Linked DNA regions of Homo sapiens: region 1 is linked to region 2. Evidence: fine-mapped expression QTL. Tissue or cell type: whole blood. Region 2 holds a variant in brackets; the other region holds the start of a gene. All regions are shown on one strand. Distances are from middle to middle.

Region 1 (8,000 bases), 230 kb after region 2:
TGATAACCTTGAGAAGTACCACAGCAATAATGATTTAGTTAAGCAAGTCAGGAATAACAGCCATCTCCCTTGAGTGCTTCTCCCTTCACTTCTGGCACTGGCCTCTCCTTACAGAACTGGATTTCACAAAAGTTCCTGGAGGGCAGCAGAATCCACAGGTCTAGTTTAAGCAATGTTTTAAACATGAATCTTTGCATCTGAAATGTAGTAGCGGAAATAAACAAATTATCATCATCCTACAGTTTACACTTGGCTCCCCAGCTTTCCTCCCCCTTCACACACCAGTGAGTTACAGTAGTTAGATAGAAAATATATCAGAAAAGCCACAATTTATAGTGTAACTTCACAATGAATCACTTGAACAGGCTGTGCATACAACAAATAAGTTCAGTGCTCCTATTTATGTGTCTCATAATTTCTAGGATACATAAAAACAAAGTTTGCTGCTCTTAAGATTTCACATTCTAAGAATATGTGATGGCATATGTAGTTCTGCTAAGAAATCAGTGTAAAATACACTTTTCAAATTGTAGCAAAGTATAATTCACAGTTACAGGCCCTCAATATTTTATCAATATATACTATCTAGACATCATATTGAGCATGCTATCAATAAAATCATATGGGCAAATAATCATACTATATTCACCTATGTAGCTACAAGATAGAAGTCACGAATTTTAACACTCCATTAGACTATTGCATCTGAAAAACTTACAACTGCCAACCATCAAAGCACAACTAATTTATCATCACACTCACACCATTCTTCCAAGTTACAAGGTCCAGTCCTAACACTTCTGATGACTCAAGAGCACAGAACAATTATACCTATAGAAAAATGCATATCCAAATTTAACCTTAATTTTTAAAGAATGGCTTCTTCTGATGTGTATTTTCTTAAGGATTAGACAGCAATGAACAAGGGCATACAATAGGAATACTTGATTCACCACCGTGTTCTATAACAAGTTGCATTATTATAATAAGTTTCTTTTTTTAAATAAACTCTATATTCTTGGTTTAAATGCTTACTATTCAAACTGCCCCCAAGAGCCAGTAACTGCCCACACTGACCCAAGGTGGTTTTAGTGAAAAGTCACCCATCAAGTTGCATTATTATAGTAAGTTTCTTTTTTTAAATAAACTCTATATTCTTGGTTTAAATGCTTACTATTCAAACCGCCCCCAACAGAGCCAGTAACTGCCCACACTGACCCAAGCTGGTTTTAGTGAAAAGTCACCCATCTTTGGAAACAAGGGCTTTTTCCACGAATATGCTAGAAATAGCAGGTGCACCATTACACAAAATTGGAGAGAACAGAAATTTACCTCACTCCTACAGACCATTTCTCAGAGCATGCTGTGTAGTTGCTAAAATCAGTATGCTGCGTAAAAGTTAAGAAAAAATGTATGTCTAACAGTGGTTCCCTATCAACTAGCCTCTGGTAGGCACTACATAAAATGCATTAAGACGGGTTTGCTGGATGTTCTGGCACCTATTATCAGGTGATTTTTTAACAGAGATGTGAAGATGCTTTTAGCAGGAGAATGGGCACACCAGAGAATACAGAATGTGGCTAATTACGACGAGAAGAAGATTCTGCCTTCACCTCCCCTCACTGTCAACCACTTTGCGTAAGTGCTCTCACTGCCTCGCCCTAACCCTGGGGATCCATTCACTTTTCATAGCTCAGAGAGGCTGCTGAAAAGCTGTCAAAGTAAATCTGTGCTCACTTTTTGGATGGTTTAATTTCAATGGAGCATGAAACACCCCAGGACGGTTAATAAGTTTAGCCAGGCGTGCTGTTATCCCTAATATATTTTAATTATGCATCTGTTTTAATTGTAATCAGATTAAGACACCGGAAGGACACAAATTGGAATTTTCCCTAATGGATATAGGGGCTTTTCATCACTTTCTGAACACTAATAACGTTTAAAAGATAGGAAGAGACACCAACACAACGGTGACATTTTCCAGAAATCGATGCAGTTTCTTTGACAACACAGTTCAGGTCTCATTAGCCACCCAAACTAACCTAAGTGCAGAAGACAACTTCAGTCTCTAGGGGCGTCTTCTTCTCCAATTAGTACAAAAGAACCACTAACATCTAATGTACAACTCCCAAACAGAAATGAGAAAGCCGAGGCTTTTATAAAGTGCTGCCCAATGGATTGGTGAAGGAGGCTAGGGCGGCGGGAGAGACCATCAGCAGCATTATTTTGGCTCAAAGTAAAAGTCTATACACGTTAAAAGGGAAAGTTAAAGCAGAGAACGATCTCCCTTTTCACAATTTTGGCAACTATCAAACGTGTGTTTTAACTTCGGGAAATAAAAGTGTCCCATCAATAAAAGGAAACGGGACAGGGAGGATCTATCAGGGATCGAGGAGAGGCTTCCTCCCAACCAGACGTAAAATCACTTAATGTGCTTTGTTGCATCAAGGAATACCTAAGACTTTAATTTAATACGTTCATTAAACAGTTTCCCAAATTGCCGGGATTTCCGCTAAGAAACTCAAGCGTCTGCCAACAGCCGAGAAGCAAGGGAGAGAACCTGCTGCAAACTAGGAGCGGAAACTCCCTCGGCCCGCCCAGCGCGCCTCACGTCCCCGGTGTTTGATTTAGGTGTTAATGTTTACGTGTCGCCTAAACCATCAGGTGCTGAACCAGTTCCTCCAAGACGCACTTTGAGCCTTAAAGAGGGAAGCTTCAGAGCCACTGCGGAGTGTGCCCCCTGCAGCCCGTCGCCCCCTCCTCTCGGCCCCTTACCTGTCATCATAGCAGAAATCCGCACTCAGGGTGTTGAGATACAAGGCGAGCCCCAGAGCGCTGCTCACCAACTCTGCAATCATCTCTCCACCGCCTTCCCTCCGGCTCGGCTCCCAGCGCGAGGGCAGCAGCGGCAACAAAAAACAGAAGCATCAATCTCCACCTTCCGCCGCCTTCTCCTCCCAGCTTCACTTTTCCCTCGCTTCCCCACCCTCCCTCCCTCGGGTCCTTCCAATCCACGACTCCTCTCCTCCTCCTCGCGCCCGTCTCCGCAGCTCCTGCGTCCTCCCCGGGTGCGGGCTCACACCACACTCCCCATGCCCGGCGCCCGCAAGCGGTGAGCGGCGTTTGGGCTCCGCGTCCCCCGGCGGAAGCGCAGGGCTGGTCTTTCGCGCGGGTCGCGATCCCCACCCTAACCCATGGCAGTTTGGGGCGTCCTAGGTGAGGAGTGGGACTCGGAGGAGGTGGAAGGGTGCGGGATGGGGGCAGAGGGACCGGACCAAGCCGGGCTCTGGGACCAGCTGGAGGAAGAGAGAGAAAGAGGCGCGGGTGGGAGGGACAAGGCGAACCGCCTCCCCTCGCCGCCTCCCGGGCGCACTGCTCCGGTGTCGCTCGGGCGGACTCCGGCCGCCAAGGCAGCTGCTGCACATTCAATGTTTATTAGCTCCCTCCCAGCCCCAGCCCCAGCCCCAGCCCCAGCTCCCTTCTCCAGTGAAGTGAGAAGCGGTGGCTGGAGACTCCAGAAGCTCCCGCGTGGGGTTCTCGACGCGGCCCCCCGCGCCTGCGTGACCAACCCTCCATCCCGGCTTGGCCCAGCCCCTTTCTCCACCCAGATCCTCCCGGAAGGCTCCTCCTACCCTGCCCCTCGGGCTGGAGGCTCCTCCCACCCTCCCCGGCCTGGAGGCTCCTCCTACCAGCCTCCCGTCCTCTTGTTTCTTTCACCTTCGATTTCACTCTGGAAAGCCCCCGGGACCCAAGGGCGACGGCTGGAAGACAGCCCAAAGGAGTAGATACAGTGCACCCTGGGAGGGGAAGCTGGGAGAAAGGAGGTCGAGGAGGAGGTGGTCGGTCGCCCCGCTGCTGCCTGGCAGCGCCTGGCACGGCTGAATCTCAGCCACAGCGCTGTGTGTGCCAAGAGCTGCCAGGCGTAAGTCCGGTCAGCTGGAGAGACTTCTGAGACCGGGAGAGGAAGAACAGGTTTGGCGACTGCTGCAGCTTCGGTTGTCACAAACTCACTGGCGATCTCTCACGCACACTGTGTGTGAGACTAAATGGGGGGGAGGAGGTAGTATTGGAGAGCTTGGAGGCAACTTAGGAAGGAGAGATTTCAGCTCTTAGCCTACGGTTGGCCACAATGTCAGTGGAAAGACGTGTAGGGAGAGAAACGTTTCCTCCTTCAGTAAGGTTAAAAAGAAAGGACCCCAAAAAGGGAAAGAAAGACACACACACACCCCGCAGCAACTGCCCGGGGACCCCTTCGTGGTTTCAGAGGGACTGTCGGGTTGACCCTGAGAACACAGGAGAGAAACCTCTAGTGCAAGCCGGTACAGCATTATACTTAAACCTAGTAAGGCAGTAAGCTAATGCCCTTTCCTTTCCGCTCGGAGGCAGGACTGGATGGAAAGCATCCAACATGGTGAAATATGGTGTAGAATGGTCTGTGTAGAACAAGCTCTGGGTACTAAAGTTGCAAGACCAAAGAGGACCCAGGGCTGCCTGACACGCCTCCTCCCGGCTTGTTGGCTTTCTGGCCAGGAGAGTAGCTCCGGTGCACCGCGATGTACACTACTGCAGCGCCCCCTGCTGCATAGTAACCACAAGGTGTGGAAGACAGGTCTGTTTTGCATGCGGGCCGACTGGTTCCAACCAAGAGCAGCACCTAACCAGCAAGCTCTCCGAAACTGTGGCAAGAAATTGAGCCCCCTGGGTGTCTAGCAGTGGCCTGGAAAGAAAATACCGTGGTCTGGGCTTCTGTAGAACAAAGCTACATATTTCCCTGATTTCACAAGGAAATCTGAGAAATCTGTATTGGATACACACAGATAAAATGATGAATATTTATTAATATTATACCTGTTATGCCATCCACAGTAGCACATTTTTTGTGCCCTGGACAAATATATGTAAACAAAAATAAAAGGAATTATGTCTTTACAGGTAGGGACTGATCTTTTACCCTTTTCCTCCATAACCTTTGCTCACTTGAAAATTTTGAAAATCATATCAGTTAGTCCATCCTGATGCTCTGTGTCTCTCCAATGCACTTACATGCTGAGATATATATAGTATATATAAAATATGTATATGGTGTCCTAGAACACTGAAGGAAGAACACATACTGTGGGATCAGATGTTTAAGTTTGAGTGCATACTCTGCTATTACTATTTGGGCGATCTTTGGCCAGTCGTTCAACCTCTTTGTGACTCTGTTTTCTAATCTATGAAACAGTGATAATAATAGTACTTATCTTATGAGTACTGTTATTATGAGTATTAAAGTAGTTAACCTATGTAAAATATCTAAAAGGGACCAGGAAAGTGCTACAGAAGTATTAGCTAGTATATCATTATTACTATGCTTTCTAGCTTCCTCGTTTCATTTTACTTGTTAACAAAAACCTGGACAGTTACCTCCAAAACACATCCTATCACATCTTTACTACTTGAGTCCACAGCCCAGCTGCCCTCATCTCCTGCATAGACAAATGCAGTAGCCCTCTAAGTGGTCCCCGTACTTCTACCCCTGCAATGCCTCCCTTCCCCAATTTTAACTTTAGGCAGAAGTTTCCTTTGAAAACCTATACATTCCCAATTTTTAAATGTTCCACAACTTCCTGTTGTATTTTTAAATGTCCAACAACTTCCTGTTTTACAGCTAATAAAACTAATTCTTACCATGGCCAGCCAAGCCTTCATTTAGCCCAGACTACCCCTCCCGCTTCATGTTGTGTTCATATGTGTACAACACAGACATCCTTCTCAGGAACTAACCACTTTCTCTTCCTCCTGCATGAGGTTCTTCTCCTCAAACCTTCTCTAGCTCCTTCTCACCATTCAGGTCTTAGCTCAAATGGCATAACCTCAGAAATAAAGTAGGCTCTCCCCCATCAATCTCTATCCAACCACCATGTATTAGTTTCTTCATAGTATGTATTAGTATCTGGAAGCACCACTGAGTGGAAGCTCCATGAGGTCAGGGATCCTGTCAGTCTTCTTTTCCACATAAAACCCAGAGCCTATAACATCTGGACACGGAGAAGAAACTTTAAAAAGATTGTTAATAAATGAACAAAATAAATGTGCTTAGGAGAAACTACGTAACAGCTGGAAAATCCAAAAATTTTCATCGCTGATTTATTGTTTGTCGTTAGTGTTAAAGATCGTGAAGTATTAACCAAGGAGAGAGGAAGGGAGCAGGTTCACAGTTTTTCAGAATACATCAAGTCTGCAGGAATACCCGTGAAGGGGAGTCACATGGACAGGTCTCTTCAGTTATTAAGAGGACTCAGATATGTAAAAATATTAGAGAGCTTTGGGTTCCACATGCTAAAAGCTTGTAAGCCTTTTCCACAGCTGTGTTCATTTTTAAGGCTCCAATAGTTTAATTTAATTTTTAATTTTTTTTTTTTTTTGAAACAGAATCTCACTCTGTCGCCCAAGCTGGAGTGCAGTGGCCCGATCTTGGCTCACTACAACCTCTGCCTCCCGGGCTCAAGCGATTCTCCTGCCTCAGCATCCCCAGTAGCTGGGATTGTAGGTGTGTGCCATCAAGCCCGACTAATTTTTGTATTTTTAATAGAGACGGGGGTTTTACCATGTTGCCCACGCTGGTCTTGAACTCCTGACCTCAAGTTATCCACTTGCCTTGGCCTCCCAAAGTGCTGGGATTATAGGCATGAGCCACTGCGCCCAGCCATGGCTCCAATAGTTTTAAATAAATTTTATACACTCCTCCATCTCCTCGTTTTCTCCTTTCCCCACCTCCCAATACCTCTGAATTGGAAGCCTAGGTGACTGGGAGATGGGCTGTAAAATGGCACATCTTGCCTTCCCTGATAAACAGAAGGCTGAAAACCTAGCTGTGTTTGAGAAATCCAGTTGCTTTTAACAAATTTTTCTATTATAATTTAATGTAGGTTTCAATATCCTTCCAGAGCATTAAGCCATGGTCTCTTTTAGATTGCTCTCCAAGGGCTGAGAAGCAGCCAATTCCTGAATTTTCTACCTTCCTGGAACAACTTTAGGAGGAAAATCAGATTAAAGATGTCATCATTATTGTTGGAGATCATTTAAAATCTGAGGACATAGGTTTTTAGTTTATCAAGGTGTACTTATTTGATGTAAGGTTGCAGCATCAGTTCTGAATATGTGTATGTTCTATTTAAAGCGACAGTTGCTCTCCACAGGTGAAGGAAATTAGGATGGCTGGCTTGAATTTTCTACCTTAGACACAATACTGGCCAAAAAAGCGCTAAGCCCTTATTTTCCTGAAGTAGGCTCCACACATCTGCTACCTCACCACTTCCTCAATGAATTCCTTTTTATAGTAGCCCCGACCTACCCTGCATTTGTTCTGCATTCTCAGTCCTTTGTTGTATAATTCATACCTTTGCAGTGCCAGTTCCTCAGGGTAAAGATTTCCTTATTTGCCTAAGACATTTTTAGTTTATTGTGCAATACTATCTTCCCTTTGGGTGTTGCATAAATATTAACTAAAGATCCACATCTGGTCCTGGTCGTCATTTCTATTTGTCCTAATATAACTTCTCTTTGAACAATTCATTTGGAAAGTGTGCCAAGGGTGAAATGTGGCACGTAAATTCTCTTGCTGCACAGAATGCTTTTTAAAGTGCCCACAGATTTGGTTATTTATGAGCAGGAGATTTGCGCCTCTTCCTTGCTCTCTCAATTCTAAAATTGTACTGGGCCAAAATAATTACAATCTTCCATATGTTTTCTGAAAAGGTATCCAAGTATCTCCTGCTAAAATTTTAACAGATTGACTAAGAAGCAGAAAAACACTAGCCCAGCAGGTGAAACTGCCTGTTTAGGGAGGTCAGAACAGAGCTCTCTGCTGGGGGACTCATAAGCTCTGGGATTTACTCAGGAAATAACCCTGCAGGAGAAAAACAGCAGAGCATGGATGAAATGTGGGTCAGGGAGCTGAGACAGGCACATGGGCGGCTTGGTTAACTAATGACTGTAAATGCATTGGCAACACATGT
Region 2 (9,959 bases):
AATACATGAATAAAATAGAGGAAGCTTACAGGGATTAACCTGAAACTGCAGTGAAGGGAAAAAAAAAGAGAAAGAGAAGGAAAAGGAAGGTAGGAAAAGAAAGGAAACAAAATAAAATTAAGGTCACACATCATCTTCTTTTAAAATAGAGATGCAGTTATGCTATATCCTACTTAAGGAATAAAAGGTTTTAACATACACTTAACCTTTTTTTTAGAAAGATAATTCAAAACAGATGTTTGGGATTATCTTCAAATTTTCACTTTGGTACTTATTCTTTGGACCACTCAAAGACTTTGTATTTTCATTAACATTTAATATAATGTGCATTTTTTACATGTTTAAGCCTGTATATTTTATTGGTGTATTCATTTCATATAATCTTTTAAAAGTGCAATTTTATTGAAATAAAATTCTCCAAGTTCTTTCAGTGAAGTGTGATGAAGTGTAAATAACAGTTACAAATGCTTTAAAAGTCCACATTTATTTTTTCCTGTTGCCCAGGCTGGAGTGCAGTGGCATGATCATGGCTCAGTGCAGCCTCAACCTCTTGGGCTTAAGCAATCCTCCCACCTCAGCCTCCCGAGTAGCTGAGACTACAAATGTGCACCACCATGACTGGCCTTTTTTTTTTTTTAATTTTAATTTTTGTAGAGGTGGGTCTCACTATGTTGCCCAGGCTGGTCAAAAACTCCTGAACTCAAGCGATCCTCCCACCTTGATCTTGCAAAGTGCTGGGATTACAGGAATGAGTCACTGCACCCAGCCTAAAAGTCCACATTTTAACAGAGTATGTCTATAGATGAATGCAAATCACACTTTCAACCCTGGATATAATATAATAAAGCATTTATCTGAAGTTCAAAAAATATAATTGTTGTTCCAAAATCCCAATCTAATTTTGAAAAGTTTTTTCCCAATGAAGTTTCCAAATATTCAGAGTATTCATTTCATTCCTGTTTTAAACAAAATAAACTTCATATGAAACTGCTCTAACTTGGAAGGGCTACTGCTCCATCTCAAGGGCCTGCATTGCAGCACTGTGACAGCCTAAAGAGAGCGAAAGAATGGGAAGGGGAGAAGGAGATGAAGAAGAAATTTTAAAAATTATAATAAAAATAACAACAATAATAGTATTTACATTTATTTAACAATTACTACATCCTTGGTAGTCTCCTCAATTCATTTAAACTAATACAAACATTTGGGGTCTATAGTATTACTATCCTCATTTCACAGATGAGAAAACTGAGGTTAAGCCTCCTAAGTAGCAGATGTAATAACAAGGAAGATTCAGATATGTTTCCAGGCATCCAAATGTGGTCAGAGGCAAGGCTATTTCACCCTCTCAATATTGAGTTTGAATAGAAGGTAGAATATCATAAGATGGTACTTAATATGTTTTAATAATTTTAATTTAGGGACTATAGCATAAATATGAAAACAAAATTATCCAAATGAGTTATCCTCTCAGAACTGCTAGGGGGAAAAAAAAACCCTCAGTAGTAACAAAATAAAACTATCTGGTATCCATATTTCATAATATATTTTTCAGACCAGAGAAAAATTAATGCCAAGTAGTATATCAAATGTTTTACATTTCTTTGGGAATATAATTTTATATGTCATATTTTCCTGTTAACATATTGGAACTGAACATATCCTGCCTACGTAAACAAATGGTTGTTGCTCAAAGATGCCGGCTGGGAACTTTGGTATATTTATCCATTCTTCTTAGTGCCCTGAAGATACTTTACATGTGACAGAGATTTAATAAGCATTGTTTAATAAGTAAGCAACTTCAATCCTAAGACTAAGCATATATAATTAGTATATTAAGAGAAGGCAAACAGACACTTCTAAATATCACTGGATAAGCTCTAGAAAATATGATCTGTGGAGTTATTTTATATTCAAAAATAAAAAGAAATTCTTCTGCTAAAAAAAATCAAGAAGTGAAGAAGTAGGAATAACTCTTATATCTCAAGGGCCCTTCACATTGATATTAAACTAAACTACCTCTAAAAGGTATCCATTTACTAAGAAACTTGATGTTAATTCACAATGAAAGCTTCTCTTGTACTTAGTCCACAGTCTGCCATGGTTTGATGTTCTTTGAAAGGCAGAAGAACAATTAAATATTCCCATCTTGCTGAAGTTGTTCTAAAGAGAAAATCAAATGTGAGGTCCCTCTAGAAATGCTGTGATCTGCTACAATAAATACCTCTAAATTTTTTCAAAGTTCCAATTTCAAATACATGGTAGTTTTAAGTTTATAGAGTAAATTCAAACTTACTCTGAAGTAACTATTGCAATTTCATATCTCTGATATACTTCACAAAATCAATACAGGGAGATTTGAGAAAGTTTTTTAAGATTTTTTCTTATGTTAGTAATTTGAAGAAATTATATATATTCATTAATTATAAAAGAAGTTATAATGAGTTTTTCATAATTTGGCATACACTGCTCTTTGAAAAAATAGCTAGAAGAGCAGAAAACAGACTAATATAGAAAATTGATACTTAGAGCAGGGTTGTTGCTATAACAACACCTGAAAATATGGAAGCAGCTTTGGAACTGCATAACGGGTGGAGGTTGGAAATTTGGAGAATCAGGCTAGAAAAAGCCTATATTGCCATGGGAGGGCTCAGAAGACCACAGAACTGTAGAGCTACCAGTGTACGATGCCAGTCTGAGAGAGCGGAAATGTGGGCTGAGCCCAGCAAAGCCATGGGCGTGGCAGTTCTCAGTGTCTTGAGAGCCCAACCCCTATATCAGTGTGCTCAGGATATGGGACATGGAAACAAAGGAGATTATTCTCCAGTTTTAAGACTTCGTATTGTTTTCCCTACTGGGTTATGGATTTAGTAGGGACTAGTTACTCTTTTCTTCTTTCCTCTTTCTCCCTTTTAGAACGAGAATGCCTACCCTATGCCTGTTTCACTGTTGTATTTTTGAAGTAGATAACTTGCTTTGATGTTACAGGCTCACATCTGGAAGGAATTTGCCTCTATACAGATCATGCCTTGAGCATCACCCATATCTCATTTAGATACGACTCTGGACTTTGGATTTTTGAGTTGATGGAAACAAGTTAAGGCTTTTGGGACTTTGGGGATGAAATGAATGTATTTTTGCATTATAAGAAGGACATAAATTTTGGGTGCCTGGTACAAAATGTATGGTTTGCATGTGCCCTGAAAACTCAGCATGCTGTAAACTTAATTCCCAATGTAACTGCATTGGGAGGTAGGTCCTAATAAGAAGTGACTGGGTCACAAGGGTGAAGCCCTCATGGATGCATTAATGTTAATACATGAGTGGGTCAGTTTTCACTAGAGTGAACTGTTATAAAAGCAAGCCCAGCCCCTCATGCTTTTTCTCTCATATGTGCTCTCTTTCTCTTTTGCCTTCTGTTACAGTTCAACCCTTGCCAGATGCCAGCACAATACTCTTGGACTTCCCAGTCTCTAAAACTGTGAGCCAAATACATGTCTTTGTGTTGTTTTGTTTTGTTAAAAAAGAGGCTGGGTGTGGTGGCTTACGCCTGTAATCCCAGCACTCTGGGAAGCCAAGGCTGTCGGATCACAAGGTCAGGAGCTCAAGACCAGCCTGGCCAACATGGTGAAACCCCATCTCTACTGAAAATACAAAAATTAGCCAGGCGTGGTGGCAGGCACCTGTAGTCCCAGCTACTCAGGAGGCTGAGGCAGAAGAATCACTTGAACCTGGGAGGTGGAGGTTGCAGTGAGCCGAGATCGCACCACTGCACTCCAGCCTGAGCAACAGAGCAAGACTCTGTCTCAAAGAGAGGGAGAGAGAGAGAGAGAGAGGGAGAGAAAGAGAGAGAGAGAGAGAGAGAGAGAAGAAAAGAAAAAAGATAAAATAAAAAGATAAATGAATTTCTTAATATTTAATTTTTACCTATTTAACATTCAGGTCTGCATAAGTAATCACTCCTCTTTGGGTTATCATCTCAGCATTTTCATTTTACTAATACACTGCACAGTCACTAAATGTGGTAAGGACTCTCATTCTTGTTTCGTGCTTCAGCTATAATTCATTTTAAACCTTACAAATTTAACATATGTCTTTGTCCCTATATGAAAATCTTGAGTTCTATGTAAGAATCTGCCAAAATTGAAGTACTTAACTGCATTAAAAAGGGGATAAATCCTAAATTTTGCTTCCACCAACGCTGAGTTACTTGTTTGAAATCAAAGTGTTACTTCCATGAGGAGGTAAAAATTGCAATCTTGCCAGTCATCTATCACAAACCGTCTGCAAAAGAAAATAACTTATTTGCACTTAATATAGTAGTGCTTAATATA[T/G]CTACTAAGAATTGTTTTTATTCAGATTAAAAGCCAATTTTGGCCAGGCGCAGTGGCTCATACCTATAATCTAGTACTTTGGGAGGCCAAGCTGGGCGGATTGCTTGAGTCCAGGAGTTCAAGACCAGCCTGGGCAACAGGGTAAAACCCCAATAAATACAAAACTTAGCCAGACATGGTGATGCATGCTGTAGGCTGGGGTGAGGGAATCGCTAGAGCCTAGGAGGTCAAGGCTGAGGTGGGAGAATGCCTTCAGCCTGGGAGGTTAAGGCTACAGTGATTTGTGATGGCACCACTGCACTCTAGCCTGGGTGACAGAGTGAGACCCTGTCTCAAAAAAATAAAAGCTGGCCGGGAGCAGTGGCTCACGCCTGTAATCCCAGCACTTGGGAGGCCAAGGCGGGTGGATCACGAGGTCAGGAGATCAAGACCATCCTGGCTAACACGGTGAAACCCTGTCTCTACTAAAAATACAAAAAAATTAGCCGGGCCTGGTGGCAGGGGCCTGTAGTCCCAGCTACTGGGGAGGCTGAGGCAGGAGAATGGCATGAACCCTGGAGGCGGAGCTTGCAGTGAGACGAAATGGTACCACTGCACTCCAGCCTGGGTGACAGAGTGAGACTCTGTCTCTAAATAAATAAATAAATAAATAAATAAAATAAAAGCCAATTTTAAGCTAGACTTGTGTATGCATATGTGATCTCTCCTAATCCTCATAACAAATGAGCTTACATTATCATCCAGTTTGTACTATTAATAGAAGAAGAAACCATGCCTTACAGAAGTGACACTCAAAAAGATAAGAGAACAAAAAGATGTGTCTGTCTGGTTCCAAAGTCCTTGCCTTTAACCATAATGGAAGTCTTGGACTTTGGATGTGCCCCATGAATGGTCTTACCAGCTACAATTTAAATAAATATTATTTTAAAATATAAATGTTAATTATGTTAAACTTTCTAATGTCAATGGAGAGAGAAAAAAAGGAAAAAAAGAAAACAAAGGGAGGAGAAAAAGAGCCATTTAACTGCATGGAACTGAAAACGAGCATGAATGTGTTGTTGCTGTTTTTTAAAGTAGACTGTCTTCCCACTCCATCTATTAGCAAAGACTATGGGGCGGGGTCAACACTTGTAGACTGAGCATTTTACTAATTGTATGATAGTCACTTCATGTGACTCCAGGGAAATAAGAGCCTTTGTAAGCCTACAGGAATTTATTTTTTCTGAAGAAATTATACCTCGGATTATTACAGAAAAGAACATAATAGTAAGTAGGTAAATAAAACAGATATAGTTAAAATATTAAGTAGAAGAAGTGGCTATGATTTAAAGATCATGATTCATATGTTATCACAACACATATCCTATGTACTTATATGTAATTCTAATTACAGGAATTCTACAAGATACAATTATTTCTCTTTCCCCTATCTGTAGTTATTTCAGATAGATCTGAAACTAAACGTATTCCCAATAAGAAAAAAATTTTAATGTAAACATAAAATTTAGTACTTCAATAATATATTAACACTGTTAGTCTAGACAGCATTATTTGTCACTATAACATCTATGTGCATACTGTAATATCCACATGTATAATCCAGCACCCATGTTCGTTTTGTTTTAGTGTATCTACGGTTGTTCCTTGGCATTTTACCATCTGCAATCTCTACCATATTCCTGAATTTGACTATGAGCCATCCTCACATCCATGGCTCAGGTCTGCTGCCAGTACCACTCATAGTGTTCGATTTTTATTTTGGGGTTTGCATGCACTTGTCTTCCATCCATTTCTTCTCTATGCAAAATTTTTCCCATGGCTTCTCAATTTTGCCCTATGTCCCTAATAACAATGTGCTCTACACAGTTTCTGACAAACTAGCACATGGTATTATAGTAAAGACAATTAATATAACTGCATTTTCAAATATAATGACTGGCCAAAGGGAGAGAATTTGGGAGCAACAAGCCTTGAGGCTCTCCTCAAATCACAGGCAACAAACCTATTTTGCCTATCACACTGTCAAAAGTAGTTAATGGAACACTTGGGGAATATATATACTAGAATGTCATAAATAGTGGTCCTGTTTATGTAACAACTATACCAATTCAGTAAAGGCTTTTTAGAAATTCCTCATATATGGCTGATCGCATAGCCCATGCAGTCATCCAACCAGTACCTTTTTTAATTATTATTTTTCTGTTTTAAATTTTTTCTCCATAAATACTGGGTCTTTCTATGTTGATCAAGCTGGTCTGGAACTTCTGGCCTCAAACAATCCTCCTGCCTTGGCCTCCCAAAGAGCAGGGATGACAGACGTTGAGTTGCTGTACGCAGTCTTGATTATTAACAATGATAGATTTTGTCTTCCATTAAAATACCAGTTCCTTTTGATTTATGGTAAATCCCAAAGAGTACAAGTTGCCTCTGAGTTTGTATCAGGAATAGAATTGTCTCCAAGCAGCCCTTACAGCTTGCTTCTAACACAATTGGGATCATTTGAGTTTGGTTCAGGTATAAAAGATGAAGAACCCTTAGAAAGACCAAGAGTTCTTAGACGACTTGTACAGAATTACGATTTCCAAACAACTTCAGGGGGAACAAAAAGAATCCATTTTCTCCCTTAAATTCCCTTTTTAATTTTATCGCCCAAACCACATCTGTTTTATCTCACAGTGGATCCAGCCATCAGGTATGTTCCTGCCACCTAATGGCCCGAGGCCCGAGGTTAGTTTCCTACTATAAGTCACTAAAGGAACTTTGATACAGAAACATAAAACAAAATGTCCGAAATCTACGTTGTAGTACTAGCCCTGTTACCAGTTAGATTTGGGTACAACCAAGTAAATTACTTAACTCTTCTACTTCCTATTTCATAGTAAAAGCAATAATTTAGTAAATATGTAATGTGGGACAAACCCTGGGCTAGGTATGCTATGCATAACCACAAGATGGTATTGCTATACTCACTCTATAGATGATAACACTAATAAGGAGGAACAATAACCACTATAAATGAGTTATAATCAATACCCACATCTACCTTACTGCAAAGTTTGGAATCTTTAACCATGCTCCTTAAGCATCCTGCCTCTCTTAGTTTCTCATCTGTAAAAGAATTGTAAGGCCGAGCACAGTGGCTCATGCCTGTAATCCCAGCACTTTGGGAGGCTGAGGTGGGCAGACCACCTGAGGTCAGGAGTTCGAGACCAGCCTGACCAACATGGAGAAACACCATCTATACTAAAAATACAAAATTAGCCGGGCGTGGTGGTGCATGCCTGTAATCCCACCTACTCAGGAGGCTGAGGAAGGAGAATCACTTGAACCTGGGAGGCAGAGGTTGCAGTGAGCCAAGATCGCACTATTGCACTCCAGCCTGGGCAACAAGAGCGAAACTCCGTCTCAAAAAAAAAAAAAAAAAAAAAAAAATAAGTGAGTTGTAATGATGCTTGCCTAAACTAAACTCTGAGTCACATATTAAATTAACATAGATGTGTAACTCCTTGGAAAGCACATTATTATGGAGATGGTATATTTCATTAATGGATTATTATATACTAAAAGCATAACCAATTCGATATACACTTTTATAGTAAATCTGCCCTATTCATTATCTATGCTCATGCTACTGAGAATCGCATTGCCAACCAAATCCAGGGCAACAAAAACATAACTAAAGGCAATATTGAATACTCTAAAGGTCAATTTTAAGATTTAAAAAATAATGAAAATCCTAAAGATTGCATCTTATTTTAAAAATCTGCTTATAAGTTATAAATATAGTACCTCTCAAATATAGTACATCAGGGAGAATATTCCATGTGTTAACTTCTATATGTTAATTTTTGGCATTCACTGTGATCAATCCAGTAGCTAGTGTTGAACAGGGCAAAAGTAAATACTAGAGAAAAGAGAATTTTTTTAAAAAAAAGAAATGATGAGTAAAAAATGCAAATAAAATATTTATGTGAGTAGAAAAATATTTACATGTGCTAATGAGGACAATTATTTGTAAATAACTGAGATCTCTAAAATAAAATATCAATTATCTTTGCTATATGCAAAAATCTTGGGCACGTATCATTTTAAAGCATTTCTTCTGTACTTTCAGTTGATTTAACAACAGAAAAGAATGGGAAGTTAATTTTCTTTGCCTTCTTTGCTGGTACAGGACAAGCAGACAAGAATTCTGAAGACTGTGCAAATACATGTCACCCTTGAACAACATAGGTTTGAACTGCCTGGTTCTACTTATATGTGGATTTTTTTTTTCAACCAAACACAGACTGAAAATACAGTATTTGTGGGATTTGAAACCCACGTATAAAGAGTACTGACTTTTCCTATATTCTGGTTCTGCAGGGCCAACTGTGGGAATTGAGTATGCAGGGATTTGTTTTTAAGTGTGTGGTCTTGGAACCAATCCTCCACATATATCAAGGGACAACGGTACTTGAGTATGAGCCATTTTTGTATGAACTGAAAAACATGATATTGAAATAGAGAATGCTGTTATACATATAAAAGTCTTGAAACTACAATTCAGAAAGTTATACTTCCATGTATTAAAAAGAAGCTAGTACCCAGAGGGTTAAGTAAGATAGAGGAAAAATCAGGAAATATGTCAAAACCAGTGATTAATGAATATTACCAATTAAAAAATATGACTAGATGTGTGGTCTTAGATATAAAGCCATATATTCTATTCATGAGTTTTAAATAATCTTGTCAGATTATTGACATGTCAGGATGATTAAAACTCATAGAGAAGCCACATTTTCCTTTCAAATAATCAGAACTGGGTCTTAGGATATACTTCTTTAAACCCTAATTTTTAACTTAAAACCTCAAAAGTAAATGTCTGCTCCAGGCTCAATGTGAGAATGAGCTGAGAACCAGCAAAAGCCAAAACCAAAGTATGATGGTCCTCTGCCCAAAGCAGTGCACAGCCTCTTGCTTCTGGAATGGTACCACAGAGAACAGAAGCATGGCATTAGGACTTTAGTGACTTCATCAACTGCCCTCAAAAACTATCTCAAAATCATTGTGCTAAAGTGTAATGGCAAAAGAAATTTTAAAATTCTGTACTGTTGCTTCCAAATAATAGCATTTCAAGAACAAAAAGTAATTTTAAATTTATCACTGTGATTAGAGATAAGAAAAATGCAGAATACATGGGTTTGTACAGTAATCGTAATATACTAATGTTTTCATTATGCAAGCACAGAAACTCCTTTCTAACTTAAAATTATTGTAAATATTTACATGAATATGAATATTACCACCCATTCTTTTTTTTTTTTTTTTCAGACAAGGTCTCAACTCTGTCACCCAGGCTGGAGTGCAGTGGCGTGACCATAGCGTACTGCAGCTTCGACCTCCCCAGGATCAGGTGATCCTCCCACCTCAGCCCCCCAAGTAGCTGCAACTACAGGTATGCACCACCACACTCAGCTATTTTTTGAATTTTTTGTGGAGACAGGGTTTCACCATGTTGCCCAGGCAGGTCTCAAACTCCTGGGCTCAAGTGATCCACCCATCTCTGCCTCCTAAAGTGCTAGAATTATAGGCGAGAACCACTGCACCCAACCACCATTCATTCTTAACCACAATTGTGAAGGT

The links. PIP is the estimated chance that this variant, and not a neighbour inherited with it, causes the effect.
Region 1: TMTC2 starts here. The variant in region 2 is fine-mapped to the expression of TMTC2 in whole blood (INTERVAL, PIP 0.96).

Annotation. Positions count from the first base shown.
Region 1 is chr12:82,682,445-82,690,444 of GRCh38, reverse strand. TMTC2 (transmembrane O-mannosyltransferase targeting cadherins 2) reads right to left here and starts at 3,539. Exons shown (of 12, transcript NM_152588.3): 1 at 2,776-3,539. The coding sequence starts at 2,858. RefSeq lists silencers at 2,519-2,578, 2,939-2,988, 3,559-3,658, 4,509-4,588 and enhancers at 3,699-3,908, 3,929-4,078.
Region 2 is chr12:82,912,625-82,922,583 of GRCh38, reverse strand. The region is part of intron 3 of TMTC2 (transmembrane O-mannosyltransferase targeting cadherins 2); the gene reads right to left. Among named protein-coding and RNA genes, the nearest start is that of TMTC2, 230 kb to the right of the region's middle. The variant T/G (reference allele first, on the strand shown) is at 4,335.